Regions from separate parts of the Homo sapiens genome. Here region 1 is linked to region 2. Evidence: fine-mapped expression QTL. A gene starts in region 2. The other region holds a variant in brackets. All regions are shown on one strand. Distances are between the middles of the regions.

What was found. PIP is the estimated chance that this variant, and not a neighbour inherited with it, causes the effect.
Region 1: its variant is fine-mapped to the expression of TP53I13 in monocytes (BLUEPRINT, PIP 0.95).

Annotation. Positions count from the first base shown.
Region 1 is chr17:29,586,860-29,597,932 of GRCh38, reverse strand. It overlaps GIT1 (GIT ArfGAP 1), which reads left to right and starts at 8,285. Exons shown (of 20, transcript NM_014030.4): 1 at 8,285-8,606. The coding sequence starts at 8,555. ANKRD13B (ankyrin repeat domain 13B) reads right to left here and starts at 4,801. Exons shown (of 15, transcript NM_152345.5): 1 at 4,198-4,801. The coding sequence starts at 4,311. RefSeq lists enhancers at 3,613-3,682, 7,305-8,204, 9,104-10,003 and silencers at 6,007-6,196, 7,957-8,436, 8,697-8,886. The variant T/C (reference allele first, on the strand shown) is at 7,180.
Region 2 is chr17:29,562,803-29,573,973 of GRCh38, reverse strand. TP53I13 (tumor protein p53 inducible protein 13) reads right to left here and starts at 5,273. Exons shown (of 7, transcript NM_138349.4): 1 at 5,144-5,273; 2 at 4,888-4,956; 3 at 4,615-4,656; 4 at 2,255-2,383; 5 at 1,917-2,117; 6 at 1,277-1,832; 7 at 817-1,162. The coding sequence starts at 5,215. The coding sequence ends at 1,050. ABHD15 (abhydrolase domain containing 15) reads left to right here and starts at 6,937. Exons shown (of 2, transcript NM_198147.3): 1 at 6,937-7,888; 2 at 10,888-11,171. The coding sequence starts at 7,008. It overlaps GIT1 (GIT ArfGAP 1), which reads left to right. Exons shown (of 20, transcript NM_014030.4): 20 at 1-499. RefSeq lists silencers at 1,014-1,083, 5,037-5,396, 6,397-6,656, 6,747-7,366 and enhancers at 4,233-4,733, 5,817-5,866, 7,887-7,996.

The DNA of each region.
Region 1 (11,073 bases), 24 kb before region 2:
CCAGATGCTGCCTCCACCTCCCCATCAGGTGCCTCAGCTCCAGGCTCCAGAGAGCGGCTGGCACTTCCTTGCAAGCAGGGTGCTCCTCCCCATCCCCACACCTCAGGAGCACTCCCCAGGGAGGCCTGGATGGCTCAGCACCCCATACACCCCATGCAGAACCCCATACACTCAGCCAAGCTCCAGAGCAGCTCTCCCCACAAGCCCAGAGTGCCGCCTGCAGTGTAAGTGGCACCTTGCCCTGGGCCCAGGTAGGAGAATTCATTAATCTCCTCAGCAGAGGCCTCCAGCTTCTCCTCAGCAGAGGCCTCTAGCTATTTAATTGCTGGAATGAAAAGGTTTCCCATGAAACCCAACACCCAGCCCTCCCCACCAAGAGAACGGAGATTCCTTATCCCAGCAGGCCTCAGCTGGAGTCAAAAGGTGGAGTCTTTGGAGTTTTGTAGCTGGGGGTCCCTGGGCAGAGAGCCTCCCTACCTCCACTCAGGCACACACACCACACTCTAGTACACACTGGTACCATACAGATACACACTCGTACGCTCATAGGTACTCACGTGTGCCCTTAAGTGTACAAGCACATGCATGCCCAGCTGCCTTCTGGCCCTGCAGGAGTCCACTCCTGTGTAACGTGTGTGTGCGTATTTGCACAGGAACACCCCTCACACCCATGTGCACTAGCAGGGTACTTTCCAAACTCCTTTAGCATGAGCAGAATCCTTTTGTTAAGGGAAGTATGAAAAGCATACATCTCATGTATGGACTAAACACAGTGCTTGCGAGGAAGGTGAGGGACGCAGAGCCTGTGCTCAAGGTGGTGCCTGCTCAGCCCCTTCCCCAGCCCACGAGGAGGAAGGCAGGAGTCTGGTGTAGTCGTTGCTTGACCTCTCCTGCCCAGCGTGGGGTGCAGGGGCAGGTCTGCCTGAGCTCATTCAAGGGGAGGGAGGCAGGATGCATCCTCAAGCTGCGTAGGAGGCCACGGGCTGTGGGGACCGCACCCTGGACTTCTCCCTCCATGTCACCCCTCCCATCCTGCCCTTGCAGCCCCTCCCCCTCATCCCAGAACACATTGATTTTTGGTTTCTGGGGTTTGTGGCTCCCTCTCCCGAGCTTCCTAGCTTACCAGCTGTGGTGATGCCCCACATCCAGGACTGCCCAGTGTAGGCAAAGGGAGGGGTCTGAGGTGCTCCTCGCACATCCTGGGCCCCACAACCCATCTCCCCTGCCTCTAGGTCAGAAGGGTGAACAGGGAAAGCAGGAAGCAAGCCCACGGTGGAGAACGCCCCAGGGAGAAGGAAAATGATTCTCTGGGACCACAATCTGCCCACTTCAGGGTTCTGGTTGCCAGGGGCAGAGTCCTGCTCCCCAGGCCCAGCCCACACATGTCCCTCCCACGGGAGCTGCACAGGCTAACCCTTCCCCCTGTTCCCACCCCAGGGAACACCAGGAACTCACGACTCCAGAACCAGGACCATGCCCAGCTGGCCATGCCAGGCAAGGGGGAACTGGCATATTCCCTGGCTTACAACCCTGTCCCCCCCGACCTGGCAGAGAACATGCATAGCGGCAAGCAGGGCACCGGGCTGGCATCACAGCACTGCTGGGTGCCCCTTCCCTTCACCAGGCACCTCCTATCTGCCCATCACTCCCTGCTTCCAGCCTCCAGCAGAGCAATTTGGGGCTGAGCAAAGCCCATTAACCTGCTCTGAAGGTGGCCATGCTGGCCCCCTCCTCAGCCAGCTGCACTGCCAAGCCTGCCCACGGAGGGCCTCTGCGGGGCTTTCTTGGAGTGAAGAAGAGGCAGCTATGCCAAGCCAAGACCAGGGAAACCTGGCTCCTGAGTGCTTGAGGAAAGCCGAGCTGTTTCTGTGGCGGCTGGTACCAGGGGGACTAGAGGCCAGGGACCCCTGGCTGGGATGCCAGGGTTCCACAGTGCTTTTCTCATGATGTTAGGTGGCTGTCCCCAGGTCCCCCTTGCAGAAAACAGAGCCTGGTGCCCTGGGGAGTAGGCAGTGTACATCTGGATACAAGCCTCACTCTGGGCCAGTCCTCGAGAGGGGAGACAGCTAGGGAACTCTCCCACCTACACGGAGTGGCATTCCTCTTTTTGGCACGCCTGAGGGAAGGAGAGGACTGGCCTGGCTCCTCTGTGGTTGAACAAGGGTTAACCTCCACCAGTGCCCTATATTCCCCCTGGCCTGGATCCAGGACAGGCAGTGTCCATTTCAAGGAGACATTAACTCACTGGGGCAGGGGTAGGGGTGAATCTGGGACCTTGTTTCTGAGGCAGCCAGAGGGGTGGGAGAGAGAAACACATGAGCAGCCCCCAACACCTCTACCTGCAGCGGCTCCGGTGCCCCCCACCCCAACCTTACCCCAGCAAGATGGCCACCCACTTCAGGATTATCAGCAGAGAGGCCTGCTGGAGAAGTCTTTTCTCCCAGGGCATTCTGCCTCTCTCCAGTCTCTGCAGTAAAAGGACCACCCACCCTCAGGCAAGGGAGTGGGACTGAGGCATTCTGGAGATTCAGCCTTCTGCCTAGTGATCCTTGGACCCCTGGGAAGTTCTTCCCACATGAGGCTTGTCTTCTTTTGCTTTCAGGGAAGGAAAGCAGAGAAGAGCCAGCAGAGGCTGGCTGGCCATGTCTTAGCGCTTTGCACATCACCCTGGAATTTCCTGTTCACACTTGCTTCACCAGAACAGAGACTCCTTGAGGGCAGGGGTTGATGCCCTGTTTGTTCATCTGTTTCCTGGGGGCACTGTGACCCACTCTCTTTAACAGGCTTCTCGTGGCTGCAGAGCACTGCCTTTATGATAGATAAACAAAGACAGGGTCTGAGGAGTTCAGTCTGAGGAGAAACTCGGAGAGTGCTGGCATAGGCACAGGTAACAGGAAGTGGCCACCCAGACCGGCCCAGAGGCCTGCGGGCACAGGTCACTCGCATATTTACAGGGACTGCCATGCAGAGCTGGATGCCATGCAGGCCTGGGGGCTGGCTCAGCGTGGGACTTCAGAGACACATCCTGACCCCCAGCCTGCTCAGTCCGATGGCCTGCCCTCCACCTCCATGCTTCCCTTGGCGATTGCACAGCTCCTCAGACTGAACTTCTCATGACTCAATAAGCAGCCCTCAGAAGGTAAATTCCCACAGCGGGCAACTGCGCTAACCACCCCCAGCCCATGGCCCCAAGGTCTCAGACCCAGTCCAAAACTGGGGTTCTCAGCCTGCAGCAAGCCATGGGACCCGGGCCCAGCTCTGGCTCTTGCAGCCCACCCTGGAGGCGGGGGGTCATCTCTGCCATGAGTGCCTACCTGTGGCCTGGGTGCCAAGGGCAGAAGTGGCAATCTGTGACCTGTGCCTGCCTTTGTTCTGAAGCATGGCCAGAAGACATCCTGAAGCATGGCCAGAAGACATCCCCCCTTCCCCTGTTTTCTGGAGACCACTGCCCAGCCCAAAGCTGGTGACCCACGTGGCCTTACTGACCAGCAGAAACCAGGGAGCCCACCTGGTGCGCAGAACCTCAAGTCCTTCCAGCAGCCAGGGCCCCTCAGCTTCCTCTGCGCCTAGAAACCAGGCCCCAGCACCAGAGGGCAGGAGAGCGCTTTTCAGCACCTGGACAAGGCCCTTGGGGCCTCCCAAGAGGGTCTTTCTCCACTCCCTGTTCCTGAGCTGGGGCTGGGCTCTGAGAGATCCAAGGATCTGCCCAGTTTGAGAGCTAAAAGAGAAAGCGCTCACCGTTGGGGAGAGGGCGCTGGGTGGGGCTGGGGTGCCTGGGAGTGTGACACAGCCTCTTCCCCATTCTTGACCTATGGCCCCCTCCCCACGCAAGCCTTTCCCACCTCCGCACCCTCACTCGGGAGGTGTCGCCGCTCAACTGGCTGGGGCGGACTCTCCCACCACATGGAACACCGACACAGCCCGCAGCCCCTCCCTGCAGCCCTCACTGCCCCGGCGGAGGAGGGGCACAGAGGCCTCTACTCTCATCTAGGTGAGTCCGAAACACGTGTGGTCCCGCCCGTCCCGGCCGGAGGGGATCACCCTTTCCCGGTCAACAAGCACAAAAGCCGCGGCCGCAAACAAAGACGCGCCGCAAACTCGCCAGGGAGGCGGGACAGCCCGCGCCGCACCCCCTCCCCAGGCCGGACGGGCGTGCCCGGCCGCGGGGTCCCCGCGGCGCCCCGAAGGCGCTCCTACCTGGCCCGCGCGGACCTCCTTCTCCAGCTCGCGGTGGCGGTTGTGCCACACGAGGTAGTGCAGCGGATACTTGCCCTCGGGCCCCTTCCTGGCGGAGGCGTTGGCGGGGATCATCGCCCGCTCCTCATGCCGGGGCCGCGGCGCCCGGCCGGGGAGGAGGGACGGCGCCGGAGCCGGGGCCCGGGGCCGCGGGGCGGGGGGCCGGCGCTGCCTGCTCGCGGGGCTGCGGCTCGGGCATGTGCGAGCGGCGGCGGGCGGGGGCGGCGCGCCCGGCGCGGTGCGGGCGGCGCGGGCGACGGGCGTCCTCGCGAGGCGGCGGCGGCGGGCGGCGCGGAGAGGCCCCCACCCGCCCTGGGAGGGAGCGGGCACTCGGCGGCGCTGCGCGGACTCGCGCTCGCCTCCCACACCCCCGCACACAAAGACGCCGCTCGGCGGAGGGAGCAGGCGCCCGCAGCGGGCGCGGGGGCGCACGGGACGCGGGCCCCGGGGACGCCGCCGCAGGGACGCGCGCCCGCAGCCCCCGGGTCCCCACAGCTGCATAGCCCGGCCCTCAGCCCGAGCGGCCGGCGCGGGATACGGGGATGTGGGGATGATGGGGAGAGAGGAAGGGGACCAGGCGCCCCGGGTAGAGCTTGTCAGCTCAGCCCCGCGGCATCATGGGGTTTGTAGTCCGCCTCGTGAAACTGGGGGTGGCAGGTGGCCGAAGAGGGTCTGCACTGTCCCCGGATCTCGTGGGAGAGTGGGCGGGGAGTCAGGCCTGGCCCAGACGCGGGCGGGGCCCTGACGCCAGGTGGGCTGGGACGCACCTCCCCCGCTGGCATTTTGCCTTTTGCTGGGGAAGTGGGGGGGCACGGGCCTAGGTCGAGCGTTTGGGAGACGGGGTGGAGGTGTGGTCTTCAGAATTGAGCTTGGGTCCCAGGGGCCATGAAGAAGGATCCGGATTCCCAGAAGAGAGCGTCTGATTGGGAACTCCTGAGAAAGGTGTGGGGCATCAGTACCAAGGGTCATTGGAGCAGCCAGGGGTCTGGCCCCTGGAACATTTCTGAGGAGTCTTCCCTGCCCTGTTAGAAAATTAAACTCCATCTTCCACACATGTCATTGGAAACAGAATGTCCAGTAACGCGGGAAAGATGGTCCCTTTCCCCCCGCACACTGTCCCCAGCAAGAACCAGAGTGAGGTTGGACAGAAAAAGCAGCAGGTGGCAGCTCCGTTCCTCCACCCAGCTGGCCCTTCAGGAAGGGAAGTGACTGATTCCAGAGACTGTCTCCTTCCTGAATGACCCCAGGGTGAAGAGGTACTTCCAGAATGGTCCCTGCAGAGGGTGTGGTAAAAGTTGAATTGGCCTCTCAAGCGCCAATTGCAAGGCCTGGAAGGACCAAGAGGCTTGGACCAGTCCCTGGAGGGAGGGGACTGTGATGTCAGAGAGACCAGAGTTCGAATAGCTCCAACTGCCTGACCTTAAAAGAGCAAACTGCTTAATTTTTCCGACTTTCTCGGTCCACTCCCCTTCAAAATGAGAATCTAGATACTACCTCCTGGGGTGAGCTAAGGATAATGACTGCCCTGGAAACAGCGCCTCCCTCCCCCAACCAGGCGGGCCGAGACAGGTGGCGGGACCAGGCACGGTGCCTTCTTGAGCCCACCTCAGAACAAGGCAGGAATAAGGGATTCCACACCGGCCCTACTTAAAACAACAATCCAAGAAGTGTTTGTGTGGGAGGTGCCAGCAAAAGCTTGCAAACTCTCTCAGGTTTCTTTGTGTGGTCTTCCCTCCTTCCTCCTCCACACCCTGTGGTGCCAGGCCCCAGCGGGAAGAGATGAGGGAGGAGCGGGCTGCCTCGCCCCTTTCTCCCGCCTGGGAGGAGCCAGCTGGCGTCTCCGGGGGCCCGGGACCGCTGCCCGCCTGCACCACCAGGGGTCAGCAGAGTGTCGTGGCTGCAGCCAGTGCAGGGGAGGGGGCTGGCGCGGTTGAGGGGCATCTAGGAGTGGCCGGGAGCATGCCTGTGCATTTCCTTATTAAATTGTTTTTCGAACCTTGTGTGTGATTCCACTGTAGCAGTCCTGCTTCCTGGGGTGGTGACATCTCCACGGGGGAATCCAGAAACCCTTTTATCTCCAGTCCCAGGCCCAGAAGTTTGGCTGTGACGGGGCTGGGGGAAACAAAGTTTGGACGATGTGTCCGCGCCAGGGCCACTCCCAGGTAGTCTCTGAGCCAACCAGGAGATGGGGAGTGGGGTGGAGGGGTAAGCAGAGTGAATCATCCTTCTTCCCCAGCAAAGCCCAGGAGTCCGAGGACAGGGGGAGTTCAGGATGGATTGTGGGGAGTTGTCGATTGTGGGGAACTGTCCCCTGGGCGGCCGTGTTCTTTTTTTGCCAGGCGGCGGTAGACACTGAACCCAGGTCGCTTGCGCTTCGGCCCGCGCTCTCAGCTGCCACGTGCTCGAGACGCGCCCACACAGCGGAGAAACAAAGACAGCCAAGCGGCAGGGCTGCCAGCAGCCTCCTCGACATTTAATAAATGAAATTCCATAGCTGGGGGTCGATCGGGGGTGAACGGGCGGCCACCGCTCGTGGACTGAGCGCCTGGCACGGGCTGCCTGGCCACTCCTCCCGTCTCACTCCCCCCGCCCCTTACCCCCTTCCCGCTGAGGCCACCAAGCCCATGGACTCTGGTGAGAGAGCAGCTCGGGGCGGCAGGTGGTGCTCCCCCCTACACACCAGCTAGGTATCGTTGCTTGCAAAAGCCCCACCAGCTGAGCGGCTGGCTGTCGAGGGAGGGGAGGCCTGCAAGATTTTTTTAAGGTGCAATTATAAATAAAGCCCATGGATCGCGATTTCAAACAAACTTGTCAATCTGGGCCGCAGCAAAAGGCGATGGAGGCAGCTTTGCATGTATTTCGGGTGGTGTGACTCATGAGCATTACTTGTCTCCCCTAGGGAAGGAGCCTGCCCACCCACAAATCACTGCCGCTCTGGCACCG[T/C]TGGGATAATCGACCAACTTGAGCACCCCTGCCAAAGGACTGCCCCCATCTTAACAAGCAGGAGTCTCTGACTCTTGGAGAACCCCTCCTCAATTGTCACCACTGACCTGGCCCCCAGGTCTGGCCCTGGGGACCTCTACCCTCTCCCCACAAGCAGAGTGCCCGGGCCTTTTGCTGCTGCAGGGATTGGGGGTTGGGTACACGCGCGGCACACGCGTATGGGGGCGCATGCTCAGTGCGGGGGCTGCGCTCATGTGCGGCCTCTACCTAGGCTCCCTGCCCCCCAGCCCACCCACGTCCCTCACCTGCCTTGCCTTTGCCTGCCTCGTCGTGTGAAGTCCAGGAAGAAAGGCCGTCACCTGAAACGGCCCCTCTATGTTATATGCACCCTTTCTGGACACACACACCTCTGGTGGCCCAGAAACACCGTGGGTGTGTGTAAGGCGGATGACAAGTGGATGTGAGTGCACACAGGCACAGTGGTCACTCCTCGGGAGGTCTTTAAAAACCGCCCAGATTCTCTCCTCTCTGGATGGAAGGATGCATGGAGAGATAGATATATTTTTAGTCCGGAGGCAGGGGAATACACTGCCTGACCTTTCTGGCACCTGGGCGTCCATATTGTTAGCAGTGGGCGTATTCAGCAAGAGTGTGACACATACACACACACCCCTGGACACACAGATGTGGACACCTACGGGACAGGGACGCACACCTCACCCCAACCAGAGATAGACGGGTACCCCAAGGCACAGCCCCTTTGACCTGGAGCGGGACTTGGGCCTCCAAGTCCTTCTTCCCTAATCCCCACCCTCGCCGTCCGTGGGCCCAGCGTCCCCCGGTCCACCCCACGCGGAAAGTGAAGGGGAGGGGGCTGTGAGGGTGACTCACATTGCCTCCGGGCCAGGCGAGCGCTGCAGCGGAGGCCAGGGCCGCAGGCCACGCTGCCCGCCGGGGCCGGGCATCTGCCGCGGCCCCTTTAAGCGCCCCCGCCCCCTCCTGCCCGCGCCCGGGCTTCCTTTCTCTAGGGGGCGCGGCCGGCAGCGCGCGGCGGGGCGGGGGTGCGGCCCCTCCCCCTGTGGGCAGGGCCTGCGCCGCTTCCTGCAGAAGCGGCCGGGAGCCGCGCAGGGGGCGGAGAGAGGAGCCGCGAGCGGCGGCGGGGCGGCGCGGGGCGGAGGGCGCCCGAGGGCGAGCGGGCAGGCGGGCACGGCGGGTTCCGGGCCAGCCCCGGGGCGGACGGTTGGCCGGGCGCGCGGAGCCTCGCCGGGGCCTCGCCGGAGCCGGGCCGGGCAGCAGGGGCCGCCGCCGCCGCCCGGGCCCGCCGCCCGCGCCCCCCACGCTGGCCCAGAGGGCTGCGGCCGCGTCGCCGCTGAGGATGTCCCGAAAGGGGCCGCGAGCGGAGGTGTGTGCGGACTGCAGCGCCCCGGGTAAGCGCGGCGGGGCCGGGGGCGGGACCGCACAGCCAGGCCGCCGCCGGGCGGGCGCCGGGGCCTGGCAAGAGCGCTGTGCGGGGCCGGAGGGCTGGGCGGGGCGGGGGGCTGCGGCCTCCAGGCTGGGCCCCCGCCTCGGCCACTGCGGAGCTGCGCCCTTGGCGGGAGGGCCGGCCTGGGGTGCCCATGCTCCCTGGAGGCCGTGGACTAGCGAGGAAGGACGTTCCCGGCGCCGCCTCCCGCTCCTCGGTCTGAGGGAGGCGGGCAGCTGGCTGCTCCTCCACCTCCATCTCTGTATCCGACGGAAGCGCCAGCCTGGGGTGGCAGGAGGGCCGTGGCGGAGGCCGTCAGGGCTTGGGAGGTGGGGGCGAGTGTGGTTTTATGTCATCTCAGTGCCACCCCCGCGTCTTGCACCTGCTGCTCGCGTGGTCGGTACGCCTGCCGGGGTGGTGGAGGGCAAGGAGCAGAGGGCCGGGCAGATGCGCCAGTGGGGCCTGAATACCGTCTCCTCAGGAGCAGATGAGCGGTGGCTACTCCCAGGACTCCCTGCCTCGGGTTCCTAAGGCTAGCGCTCCTTGCCGGGCCTGGCGTTCAGGGCCAGTCTAGACCCGGGTGTCTTCTCGGGAGGCATCCCCAGGCCTGCTGGTGGTGACTGGGAACAGCTCGGCTGGACCCTGCTGTTCCTGTTCACCGGTAAGGCCTGCTTGGGAAAGTGAGCTTGGCATCAAGCTATCCTGGGTGCGGGCCCCTCCCTGTCCCCTAGCCCAGTCTGGCCAGAAATGGGTGGGAGGCCGTGCCGAGATTCCCCGTATCCTGCTGGCTTCCTGGCCTGTCTCCTGGCTGTATTTACATGGTGGTTCCCTTCCTTTTCCTAACAGAGTTAGGACTGGGCTGGAGTGAAACCCCCCAGGCCTGCTGAGGAAGTCAGGGGTAATGATCCAAGAGGCTGCTCCCTTCTGATGAGGGAGGACAGCCAGTGACGGGGCTCTGCAGCTGGCCTGGGAAGGAAGCTCTAGCCCACATCCATTCTTTCTTTAGCAAAGGAGCTATCTCCCTGGTAGGCCCCTGGGCAGGCTGCGGAGGTCCGTGAACTCTAGCGGGGCTGTGGGCATGATTAAGAGTGAGAGTATGGGGTGCTGGTTTGTGGGCCCATAACTTTCAGCCACCCCTTGAGCAGGCCCAGGACCCCACCGGTTGAGCCTCACAGATGCTCTGGTGGTTCTGGGGGTGCCAAGCTAGAGTATTTGGGAACTATGACTTAGCAGGGCTTGGGCACAAAATACTCCATAGGTGGTTATGACCAAGGCCTCCTAGGGGCTTATCATGGTTTAGAGGGCCCTGGGGTTGAGGGTCCATACCCCTAAGAAACTGTGACTCCGTTCCCCGAGCTGCAGGCAGGTCTGGGGATGGCAGGGCTGAGGATGCACCTTGCCTTATAAATGTCTCCCCACTGTTCCACAACTCCGTGGGGTAAGCATGGCATGGAATGTGGAGGAGAGTCTTAGCAGGCGCCCAATCGGGGGAGTCTGGGGCTTAGTGTTGCCTTTGTTCCCAGCTTACTCTGTAATCCCAACAAGACTTTCCTCACTGTGGGGTCCTCAGCTTCCTCAATTCAGAGGCAAAGAAGTTGGAGTAGAAATGGTTTTTGGGGGGCTGCCATCTCCGAATCTGTGGTCTGATTCTGGGGTGGAGGGGTGAAGGGCAGCACCAGCAAGGCAGTTGTCCTTTGTATGTTGCGTTGAATGTCCGACCACAGCCTCTGGATGCCCAGTGGGCTCAGGGAGGAATGGTGGGCATCAGATGTGTTGGATTGCCCAGCTCCTCCTCCCAGGTCCTCATCTGTCAGAGGAATTTGTGCCCCAGATGCCTCCTTTCCCCTGATTCACAATAGAGGTCAGGAAGGTGGTGAGAAGGTGAGGATGGTGGGGTGGGGAGGATGTGGACAGTCTTACTCATCAGCCCACCTAGCACCCAGCGAGGTGTCCAGCACATGGCAGGCACTCCCTGAGTGTTTGGCTGCTTGTTAGGACCCTGGCTGGCTGCTTGGGACTATCCCACACCTGGACCCTAGGATGCTGGCCCTGGCATGCAGCGGCATGTTTGGTCTGGGTCCTGTGGCATCTCAGGCAGAGAGGCATGAGGGTACCCAGCAGTCCGGAGTCCAGATCCAGTGCCAGCCCCATGGTGTATCGCTCCACCCCAGGGTCACAGGCTTCTTTTATTATGATAGGAGCCCTGCAGTCCTAACCACAGGAGTGGGGCCAGGGACTTTTTGTGCTTGGTTAATTTGGGGGGTCATGGAGGTCAGAGGTGAGATGCAGCCTGTCCCCAGAGAGCCCCATCCTCCCTCTGCTCCCGGGCATGGGCACACAGGACAAGTGTGAGTGTGTTGCTAGGCAGCTGGACATGACATGGCTGCTCTGGCAGCTTGTGCCACCTCGTCAGGCACCGTATGTGTTCCTGC
Region 2 (11,171 bases):
GGATCAGCTTCCCTTCCCCACCTGGAGCCAGGGACTGTCCGGGTAGCCAGTTTTGGTCCTGCCAGCTGCCTCCCTGATCCCTCCCCACTCTCGCCCCTTCTCTATGAACTTAAATCAAAAACCACTTCCCTCCATCTCCTCCTGCTCCTGCGTGGAGGGGGAATGTGTGCTGGCTAGGGTGGAGGACTGAGCACCTGAGCCTGGGGCTGGCTCCCCGGGGTCCCCGACTCAGCTGGTGGCTGTGGAGCTGAGTCCCCTCCCCGTAACCTCTGCAAGGCCAGCACCCACCATCACTACCTGCACCTGCTGTGGTCCCACCCTCTGGAGGCCTGGGAACCTGGCTGCAGCCTGGGAAGGCTGGAGAGGCAGACGGTGGGACCCACCAGCTCTCTCCCCATCCCGCTTCTTCCCTGGGGGCCAGGCCCTACCTGTGTGGTGGTGGGTGGGCTGTCAAGACGTGTCATGTACATTTGTATCAAAAATAAAGAAGTGACCATGAGCTGTTTCTGATGCTTAGAGAATGGGGGCTGGAGGGAGGTGGCAGACATGAAGGGTGACTGCAAGTGCCCCAGGACCCCCGCCCTAGGGAAGCCCCTGTGCTGGGAACGTCTGTCTAGTGGAAGAGTTAGTTTGCGAATAACAAAGCTAACATGTATGACGATAACGCCACCCTCCCACGAGCACATTCCTAAAGCCCCATGTCCAGGGACAGGTTGGCCAGCGGGGGCGGGCTGCCTCAAACACCACCTCCATGGCCTAGGACGAGGGTCCGGGTGGGAGTCTCTGTGCGGCAGATGCACAAGCTCAACTCCAGAGTCTACTAAAAATAATTTAATTAGAAACGGAGTTTTGGCAAGGGAGGCAGAAGCGGCTCCTTTTCTCCCCTTGGCCGCCCACTCAGCAACCAACAAGGAGGAAAGCCCCCGCAGTGCTCGGCCAGTGCCGCGCCATCGCCACCAGGGAGCGCCCCGCGCGCGGTCCACGTGGCAGAGGTCGCGGCCTCGCGGCGCGGGGAGGAGCCGCACGCCACAGTGGCAGGTCCCAGGCCGTCACTCCGAGCTCTCGCCTTCCGGGCCGCTGTCCGGCGTGGGCGGGAGGAGGGGTCTCCGGCGCGAGCGCTTGACCCGGCGCGAGGGCTGCAGCAGCCTCCGCTTCAGCACAGCTGTGGGCCGGGCGCCGAGCAGTCAAGGGCGGGAGGGCAGGGAAGCTACGGGGGGCGGCGGGCGACGCGAGGTGGGGCGGGGGCCTCGGGTAGGGTAGGGAGGGAACTCCTCACCAGCCACTGTGTCCTGGCTGTCCGCTGTGGGCCCCCAGTAGATGCTCTCCCCGCGTCGGAAGTTTCTGTGCAGCCGTGTGCAGAGCGTGGCCAGGGTGAGCAGCACCAGCAGGAAGGTCAGGGCCATGGCAGCCCAGGCGGCCTCTTCAGTGCGTGGGGTGGGGCCCCGGGCTGCCCGTGGAGGCGCTGCTGCGCGAGGGGCCGGGGAAGCCTGACTTGAACAGACACAGCCCCCTGGGCTGCCTTGCCCGTTGGGCACCTGAGCCTCTGTCCTGGAGCTGGCATTGCCTCCAGGCGCCCCCGGCAGCAGGGAGACAGTGGGCACAGATGGGGCATTACTCTCCCTACCAGGGATTCCCGCCATGGACTGCTTGGCCTTCAAGCTCCCTGGGGAAGCAGAGGGAAACCTCAGGGCTGAGCGAGTGGGCTGGGGACCAAGGGCAGCCCGCAGCCTCCGCCTCTTGGCACCACTAGAAGAGGGCTGCCTGGGCCCTTGAGATGTCACCTCTGTGCCAGGGGGCCGCCAGCTCCGCAGAGCAAAGGCCAGAGCCAGGGCCTAAGGAGAGGAGAGAGAGCAATCACCCTGCTGCCCCTCTCAGAGAACCCGAGGGCCAACAAGCCTGGGCCCAGCGTCTCTCACCTGCACACACCCTCTTCGGCACAGCCTCCCTCTACCGGGAGTTGGCTCGGAGGGAGCAGGCCCTGAAAGGCTTTCACAGTAGATCCATGCCTTCTTCTTCCTCTGCTTCCTCCTCCGCCTCCTCATCAGCCAGTGGGCAGCCCAGGCTGGCTCTACCCAGGCCATCTCCAGCGCCAGCCCCCATGCAGTCAGCACCAGGGGCTACGAGAGGAGGTAACTGTTAGAGCTACGAGGAAGGTGGGGACAAACAAGAGGAAACCCTTGAATTTTCCATTCCCTGCACACGGGGCCATAGCCTTCTGCCAGGGCCAGGCAAGCGCCTTTCATCAGCTACATACCCGATCCTGCGTGAGGCTGAAGTCAGGGGTGAGGGAAGGGTTAGCCATACAAGCATAGGCCAGGAGGGCAAGCTGGAGCTTCAGCCAGGGATGGGCACAGGGGTGGTAGAGGAAGGTGACATCCTCAGCCTGGAGGAAAGGCACAGAGACATCAAAGCAGGCCCAGAGCCCTCCCAGAGAATCTCAAGTTCTCCCATCCAGGGGACCAGTTTAAAGGTACTCCCAGGATAGCTGGATGGCTCTTCTACCTTCAGGGCCCAGGAAAGGACAAAGGGCCCTGGGTATTGGCATGTACCCACTCTTGCCTCTGAGTGTTCCTTTCACCCTTCCTCTCCATCAAGTGCCACCCTTCAAAGCTCACAGCATGCCTGGATAATCCTGCCAGACTCAGACCACACTCTAGCCATATTTCCCTGCAGGTGTAACGATGGCTCTACAGGTCCACAATCCAAGCCATAAGCAACCCCCAAATGAAGACCATCGATCCAATCTATACAGTCTCCCAAGAGCATCCAAATACAGGGCAGGCAGGCAGCAGGTGCACAATCTCAGGATGGAAATACTCCATCAATCATTCATTATTCTTTGATTGAGTTGACTTGGTGCTCAGTGCTGTGCTAGATGCTGTGGGAGATGCCAAAGAACTCCTGGACTCTGCTTGCAAGGAGTGTGTGAGAAACTCAGGGAAACAACTAATGCAAATAAAACAGCAAACTAATAAAACTTAGTGATTAGTTGTTAAATTATCAGAGATAGATTCAGAGGAGGAGGGGAGGAATAAAGGCTGATGCCATCGGGCAGTGTCTCAGGGGGAGCTGATGCCAGCTGGGACTGGGAAGATGGCTGGGGGAGTATGGCAGGAGGGCAGGGAGCTGCACTCTCCGAGTCAGGATAGGCCAGGTGTGGAGGAGAATAAACAGGAGCAAAGGGGCTGTGGTAAGGGCGAGGCTGGCACTCATTTGTGTGGCAAACAGCCCGACACAACTGGAGAGGAACCAAGGATGTGGAGAGGTCAGACGAAGCTTACTTAAGTAAGGCCTGAAAAGCCAGGCCGGAGAATATGGCCACGATAAGGTGGGAAATAAGGAGCCATTGACAGTTTGTGAACAGAGGAATGACTTCATGAAAGGGCTGTTTGAGGAAAGGAATCTGATAGGTGGCGTGAGGCAACAACTCTTGGCCTGGAGCTATTACAGAGAATTTTTTTTTTTTTTTGAGACAGTCTCGCTCTGTCGCCAGGCTGGAGTGCAGTGGCATGGTCTCGGCTCACTGCAACCTCTGCCTCCTGGGCTCAAGCAATTCTCCTGCCTCAGCCTCCCAAGTAGCTGGGATTACAGGGGTGTGCCACCACGCCCAGCTAATTTTTGTATTTTTAGTAGAGACAGGGTTTCACCATGTTGGCCAAGCTGGTCTTGAACTCCTGACCTCAGGTGTTCCACCCGCCTCAGCCTCCTAAAGTACTGGGATTACAGGTGTGAGCCACCATGCCTGGCCAATTTAAGTTAGGTATTTCAGGCCAGGCATGGTGGCTCACACCTGTAATCCCAGCACTTGGGAGGCTGAGGCAGGCAGATCACTTGAGGTCAGGAGCTCAAGACCAGCGTGGGCAACATGGTGAAACCTCGTCTCTACTAAAAATACAAAATTAGCTAAGCTAGGTGGCACACGCCTGTAATCCCAGCTGCTCGGGAGGCTGTGGCATAAGAATTGCTTGAACCTGGAGGCAGAGGTTGCAGTGAGTGCCACTGCACTCCAGCCTGGGCAACAGAGTGAGATTCCATTTCAAATAATAATAATAATAAGTATTTCAAAGGAAAATTCAGAGGAGCTGGCGATGAAGATGGAGATGCTACCACGCAAGCTGAGCCCGCAGTGTGGAGCCTGGCAACTGGAGGCACACTCCTTGCACGATGCAGCTCTGTACTGTACACGGTGCTGGCACATACCCTCCCTCGCTGCTCACAGGTAGAGACAGAATTAATACCCTCTCCTACAGAAAGCTGGGGCCCACAAAGTCAGGAGACTTCCCGCTGTCTCCTCAGGGAGCTGGAGCCTGGGTTTTTTCCAGCTACTCTCAGAGAGAGTTCCACTCACAGCCACTTGTCCACAGAGCCAGCTACCCAACAGCATCCTGACACAGCATTGCAGATGACAGGCCTATGGCTCACTGTCTTTGAGCCATCTGTCCTGGGGCTGATCTGTCCTGGGCTTGGAGGTGGGGCAGAGAACTAGAACCCTGCCTCTGCCTGAGGGAAGTGGTAAGGAATGGGGCCGATCAGCAGAACAGGCAGCGAAGCCTGCTAGGAGCGCCTGTCTCCAGGCGTGGACACCAAGGGTGGTGGGCCCCTGCTTGTACTCACCTGCCCTGGGCTCACTCGTGTGTAGGTCACTCTTGGTGACACCTATACATGGGGAAAGAACAGAGCTTAGGGCAGTTGGGGGACTCCGTGTGTGTGTGGTGGGGAGGGGACGGCAGGCCCCAAGCGCCAGGCTGGGATGGAGAAGTTGGCTACTGAGGACTGAGGAACCGGCAGAGGTCCTCAGATGGTGACTGTGGAGGGTGCGGCGAGAACAGAGCGGGACTGGGCTAGCCTTTCACATCCCTCTCTCCCTGGGCCCTCCAGGGCTCCTACCTGCGGAGGCAGAGGCCACAGGCTCTCGGGACAATGGGCTCCCGCCTCCTCCGCCGGTCCAGCCATCACCTGTGGGTCCAAAGCGAAGAGTTGGGGCGCTGGACGCGGCGAGGCCCTGCCCTCTCTCTCCCCAGGCCCAGCCCGCCAGCGGAAGAACTCCGCGTCCCCCTCGGCGCGCCACTCCTTCCAGGACGAACTTTTGGCAAAGCGCTTTGAGCTCGCGGGCCGAGGCCTTCCCAGGAGCGGGTCACCTTACCTCGCTGGGACCCAGGAGCCTCGCGAGGGCTGCCAGGAGAAGCAGTTGGGGCGAAGGCGGAGGAGGCGCCATTCCAAGCGGCCCCGGGCCCGGCCCGCCGCCCAGCCGCTCCGCCAGCGAGGGAGCGCGCGCGCCCCGCCCCTCCAGCCCCAGCGCCCCCGCGCCGCCCGCGCCGCCCGCGCGTCCGTTGGCCCTGGGCTCGCGCGCGCCCCTCCCCAGACAGTGGGCCCCCGGTATCGCCCCGCCCCAATGCCCGCCCACAGCAGCGGAGTGTGCGCGCACGCGTCTTAAACCCGAAGCCGGAAAAGTTAAGTGTAGGAACCGGGTCAGCGCGCAAGGCTCAGTAGGGCAGGCGGGGGGCCCCTTTCCTCGTCCGGGGATTCGTCTCAGCAGGTCCCTGCAGTCTGTAGAGCAGCTGCACAGCTGCAGCGCCTGGATGAGATCGTGGAGCGGAGTGTAAGGCCGGAAATGGAATCCCTGTGGACCGGGTGGCCCAGGCTGGGGAGACGGGTACACTCCCCTGGCAAACCCGCTTCAGATTTGTCGGTGTGACCTGCAATGAGAAGAGGGGCAGAATCATGAAGTCAGGAAGAGCTGCTGAAGGGAGAGGGTCCCACCTCTGGAGCTTCGCCGTCGGCCCACCCCGCTCCCGCCCTCGCAAATAGGGTCCAACGCGGAGGAGCCTCGGGAGGTGTCTCCGCTCCCCAAACTCTCCAAACCCAGAAGCCCCGGGAGGCCGGAGCTAGCCGAGAGGCTGCTGTCTTCCCCACCTCCGCCGTCGCCCAGCGGTGGCAGGCGCGCGTCTAGAAAGAGATTGGTCGCCGCGAGATGGGGACGCCACAGGCCTCACCCCCAGGAGGTGCGCTGGCCGGCCCGCCCCGCAGCGGGGCGCTGGTTCTGGTTCCCTCTCCAGGATTTGGGGGGGAAACGTGGGTAGAGAGCGAGGGTCGAGATGCCTATCCCAAAGCTTGGAAACAGCGAGAACGTGTTATTTCCGTGGTCTCCCATGCACCCCGGTTTACGAGGCGTTCCTTGTAGGTCGGACGGGCATCCCTGTCGCAGGGCGCCTGAGTGTGTCCTTTTCTCCGACTGACTCTCGGAGGCTTGGGGCTGCTGTTTCTGGGGAAGCCACTCCCGGGCTGAGGATTTCCTTGATGTGGAGCCCCGAGCTCGCGGGGACGGGGGCGAGGAGTCCACGGGACCCGCACTGATGCAGGCGGGGAAGCAGCAGCCTCCCGCCAGCGGCTCAAGACGCCGCGCTCGACCTCTCTAGCCCAGTGCCGGACCCCGCCCAGCCAAGTTATTGCGGGGTTGCGGGGCCGGGCGGGGGAGAGCAGGGCCGCCCGAGGGCAGAGCGCGCGCGCGGCCGCCGCCCCACGGGGTCCCGGGAGCCGGCGCCCGGAGCTGCGACTTACTCACCTCTCCCTTCTGCTTCTTTTCATCGGCCTCTGAGGGCGCAGCGCCCAGGGTCTGGCGGAAGACCCTGATGACAGTCGGGTCCCCAAGCCTCGGCCTCCAGTCTCCCCACGTCTCCATGGCCAACACCGCTCTCCCCGGCTCGTGCCCTCCCCACTCCCTTCCGGCTGCCGGCGCGCCCTCCCTCCCTGGTGGCCCCGGCTCCTCTCACCCTCTGCTCCCACTTGTTGCAATTGCTGTACAAAGGGCCGGGGCGGGGGTGGGGGGCGGGCGAGGGCAGCCGGGCCCGAACTGGCTGCCTCTGCCCGGCCACGGCCAATCCAGAGCGCGCCCGCGCGGGAGGGCCCTGGGCAGCCGCCGCCGGCGGGCGGAGCCGCGGGCAAAGCGCGGAGCTCGCCGAGTAGACGGCCCCGCCGCCCGCTGCCCGCCGGGGCTCTCCAGCTTCGCCATGCCGCCGTGGGGCGCCGCCCTCGCGCTCATCTTGGCCGTGCTCGCCCTTCTCGGCCTGCTCGGCCCGCGGCTCCGGGGACCCTGGGGGCGCGCCGTCGGAGAGAGGACCCTGCCGGGGGCCCAAGACCGAGACGACGGGGAGGAGGCGGACGGCGGAGGCCCGGCGGACCAGTTCAGCGACGGGCGCGAGCCACTGCCGGGAGGGTGCAGCCTTGTTTGCAAGCCGTCGGCCCTGGCCCAGTGCCTGCTGCGCGCCCTGCGGCGCTCAGAGGCGCTGGAGGCCGGCCCGCGCTCCTGGTTCTCCGGGCCCCACCTGCAGACCCTCTGCCACTTCGTCCTGCCCGTAGCGCCTGGGCCTGAGCTGGCCCGGGAGTACCTGCAGTTGGCGGACGATGGGCTAGTGGCCCTGGACTGGGTGGTAGGACCTTGTGTTCGGGGCCGCCGGATCACCAGCGCCGGGGGCCTTCCTGCGGTGCTTCTGGTGATCCCCAATGCGTGGGGTCGCCTCACCCGCAACGTGCTCGGCCTTTGCTTGCTCGCCCTGGAGCGCGGCTACTACCCGGTCATCTTCCATCGCCGCGGCCACCACGGTTGCCCACTGGTCAGCCCCCGGCTGCAGCCTTTCGGGGACCCGTCCGACCTCAAGGAGGCGGTCACATACATCCGCTTCCGACACCCGGCGGCGCCGCTGTTCGCGGTGAGCGAAGGCTCGGGCTCGGCGCTGCTCCTGTCCTACCTGGGCGAGTGCGGCTCCTCCAGCTACGTGACAGGCGCCGCCTGCATCTCGCCCGTGCTGCGCTGCCGAGAGTGGTTCGAGGCCGGCCTGCCCTGGCCCTACGAGCGGGGCTTTCTGCTCCACCAGAAGATCGCCCTCAGCAGGTGGGTAACGGAGGCCGCAGACCAGCATGGAAAGAATAGAGGGCCTGAGCTGGCTAAGAATCAGAAACAGCTATGCATAGCATTGGAACAGGCGTGGGCCAGTTTGGGCAAAGTTCTCTGAACACATCTTCCAAAGCCTTCCAAACCCTGTAATCTAGACAGAACCGGGGAAGCGGGTTTAAAGGTCATCGATGGACTCAGCTAGTATCGCTGTGCTAGAGCAGGGACTCCTAACCCGGCCCCTTGCCTCATCTCGGCACCCCCTGCTGTATCCTAGCAATCTGAGCACCTGGCCCACGACAGCAGAGATACCTGACATTTACCACTTAGCCCACAGCTTAACAGCTCAGCAAAGAGCACTCTGGAAGCAATTGCAAACGATTATCTGCCCAGAATGTTTACTCACAGTCTCTGAGCCTGGAGGTGACAGGAATCAGAAATATGGTGGCATTTGAGGCCAGGTGCAGTGGCTCCCGCCTGTAATCCCAGCACTTTGGGAGGCCAAGGCAGGAGGATCACTTGAGCCCAAGAGTTTGAGACTAACTTGGGCAACATAGGAAAACCTGTCTCTACAAAAATTTCTTTTTTTAATTAGCCGGGTGTGGTGGCATGCATCTGTGGTCCCAGCTACTCAGGAGGTTGAGATGGGAGGATCACCGAAGCCCAGAAGTTCGAGGCTGCAGAGAGCCCTGGTCAGGCCACTGCACTCTAGCCTGGGTGACAGAGCAACACCCTGTCTCAAAAAAAAATGTTATATATATATATACACACACACGCATATATGTAGGCATTTATTAAAATTATTATTTTTTAAAAGTATTTTTTTTTTTAGACAGTCTCACTTTGTCACCCAGGCTGAAGTGTAGTGACATGATCTCGGCTCACTGTAACCTCCACCTCCTGGGTGCAAGCTATTCTCCTGCCTTAGCCTCTGAAGTGGCTGGGGACTACAGGCGTGCACCACCACACCCAGCTAATTTTTAATATTTTTTTTGGTAGAGACGGGGTTTCTCCATGTTTGCCAGGCTGGTCTGGAACCCCTAATGTCAAGTGATCCGCCTGCCCCAGCTTTCAAAGTGCTAGGATTACAGGTGTGAGCCACCGTGCCCAGCTGTTTGTTTGTTTTTTGAGGCAAGATCTTACTCTGTCGCCCAGGCTGGAGTGCAGTGGTGGAATCACCACTCATTGCAGCCTTGAGTTCCTGGGCTCAGGTGACATTCCTAGCCTGCACTCTGGCTTTCTTAGGAGATGGCAGAATGAGGTCGAAGTCATTATGGCAACAGTGTGGTGTAGCAGAAAGACCTGGGATGTGGGGGCCAGACCCCCACCTCAGCCTCCCGAGTAGCTGAGACTACAGGCACATGCCACCATGCCCGGTTAATTTTTGTATTTTTCATAAAGATGGGATTGTGCCATGTTGTCCAGGCTGGTCTTGAATGTCTAGACTCAGGGAATCCACCCGCCTTGGCCTCCCAAAGTGCTGGGATTATAGATGTGAGCCACTATGCCTGGTCAGAGATTAACATCTAATTTCAACTGTCTGAGGCTGGATTGAGCTATTCAAAAGACGGAGCTGCTCATCCTGGCCTCCTTGTCAGGATGCCAAGCCCTCTCCAGGGGTCTAGAAACAGCAAAGATGTTCCCTGTTACCCAAAGCAGTTGCTCTGAGGCCCCCATTTAGGAATCCACCCAGTAAATTAATGACCAACTCAATTGCTTCCTCTGCCAGGCAGCACACTCTCTAGGAATATCTGCCCCAGGTATACCTGATCAACATCACACTCATGTGACATTACCAGGACAGGATGTTAGTTTAAAAAGCAAAAATAAAAACAATGAATGCAACCTAAAGTCAAATGTGAATTATTAGCAGAGGTGTCACCTGCTGGTTTGGATACTCTGAGCAGCAAGTTCTTCTAGGAGCAGTTTAGTAGGTTACAGTTCATAGCAAGTTCTCCACAGAGGGCCAGAAGTTGAGGTTAGGAGAACTGTCAGCAGCTGTGAAGTCAAATGCTGCCCCTAGGGCACATAGACAGGTGCAGTGATGCTGTGAATGACAGGCCTAGTGGGCACCGTCACACAGGAAGGAGGGAGGAACCCATTGTTGTGCTGAGAAATGCCCACCCATGTGGCTGGATCTTCCCACTTCCCTAGAGAAGCCAGACACCTGCATTTTATGTGAAATCTTCTAATTTTATTATTTTATTTATTTATTTATTTATTTTTTGAGATGGAGTCTCGCTCTGTCAGCAGGCTGGAACGCAGTGGCACGATCTCGGCTCACTGCAACCTCTGCCTCCTGGGTTCAAGTGATTCTCCTGCCTCAGCCTCCCAAGTAGCTGGGACTACAGGTGTCCGCCACCACGCCCAGCTTATTTTTGTATTTTTAGTAGAGATGGGGTTTCACCGTGTTGGCCAGGATGGTCTCAATCTCTTGACCTCGTGATCCACCTGCCTCAGCCTCCCAAAGTTCTGGGATTACAGGCATGAGCCACCGCGCCTGGCCACTTTTATTATTTTATATTATTTTATTTTATTTTTTGAAATGGTCTCTCTGTGTCACCCAGGCTGGAATGCAATGGTGCAATCATAGCTCACTGCAGCCTTGACCTCCCAGGCTCAAGCAGTCCTCCCACCTCAGCCTCCTGAATAGCTGGGACTGAGCCACCATGCCAAGCTAATTTTTTTTTTTTTTTTTTTTAGAGATGGGTTTTCGCCCTGTTGCCCAGGCTGTTCTCAAACTCCTGGACTTAAGTGATCCACCCACCTCGTTGGCCTCCCAGAGTGTTTGGATTACAGGCGTGAGCCACCACAACCAGCCTTATCTGGTTTTAAATGATGGCCATGAAATTAAACGTTTTCGAAGCCCTAAATGGCCAAAGAAAGCCTCTGTGGACAGATCTGGCCTGCGGGCTGTCTGTCTGTCTCATCTGCTGTCACCTGATGTTCTCATTCTTCCCTCTCTTTCCCACCTTCCCCACTAAACACCTCGCTGCCAGGTATGCCACAGCCCTGGAGGACACTGTGGACACCAGCAGACTGTTCAGGAGCCGTTCCCTTCGAGAGTTTGAGGAGGCTCTCTTCTGCCACACCAAAAGCTTCCCCATCAGCTGGGATACCTACTGGGACCGCAACGACCCGCTCCGGGATGTCGATGAGGCAGCCGTGCCTGTGCTGTGTATCTGCAGTGCTGACGACCCCGTGTGTGGACCCCCAGACCACACTCTGACAACTGAACTCTTCCACAGCAACCCCTACTTCTTCCTCCTGCTCAGTCGCCACG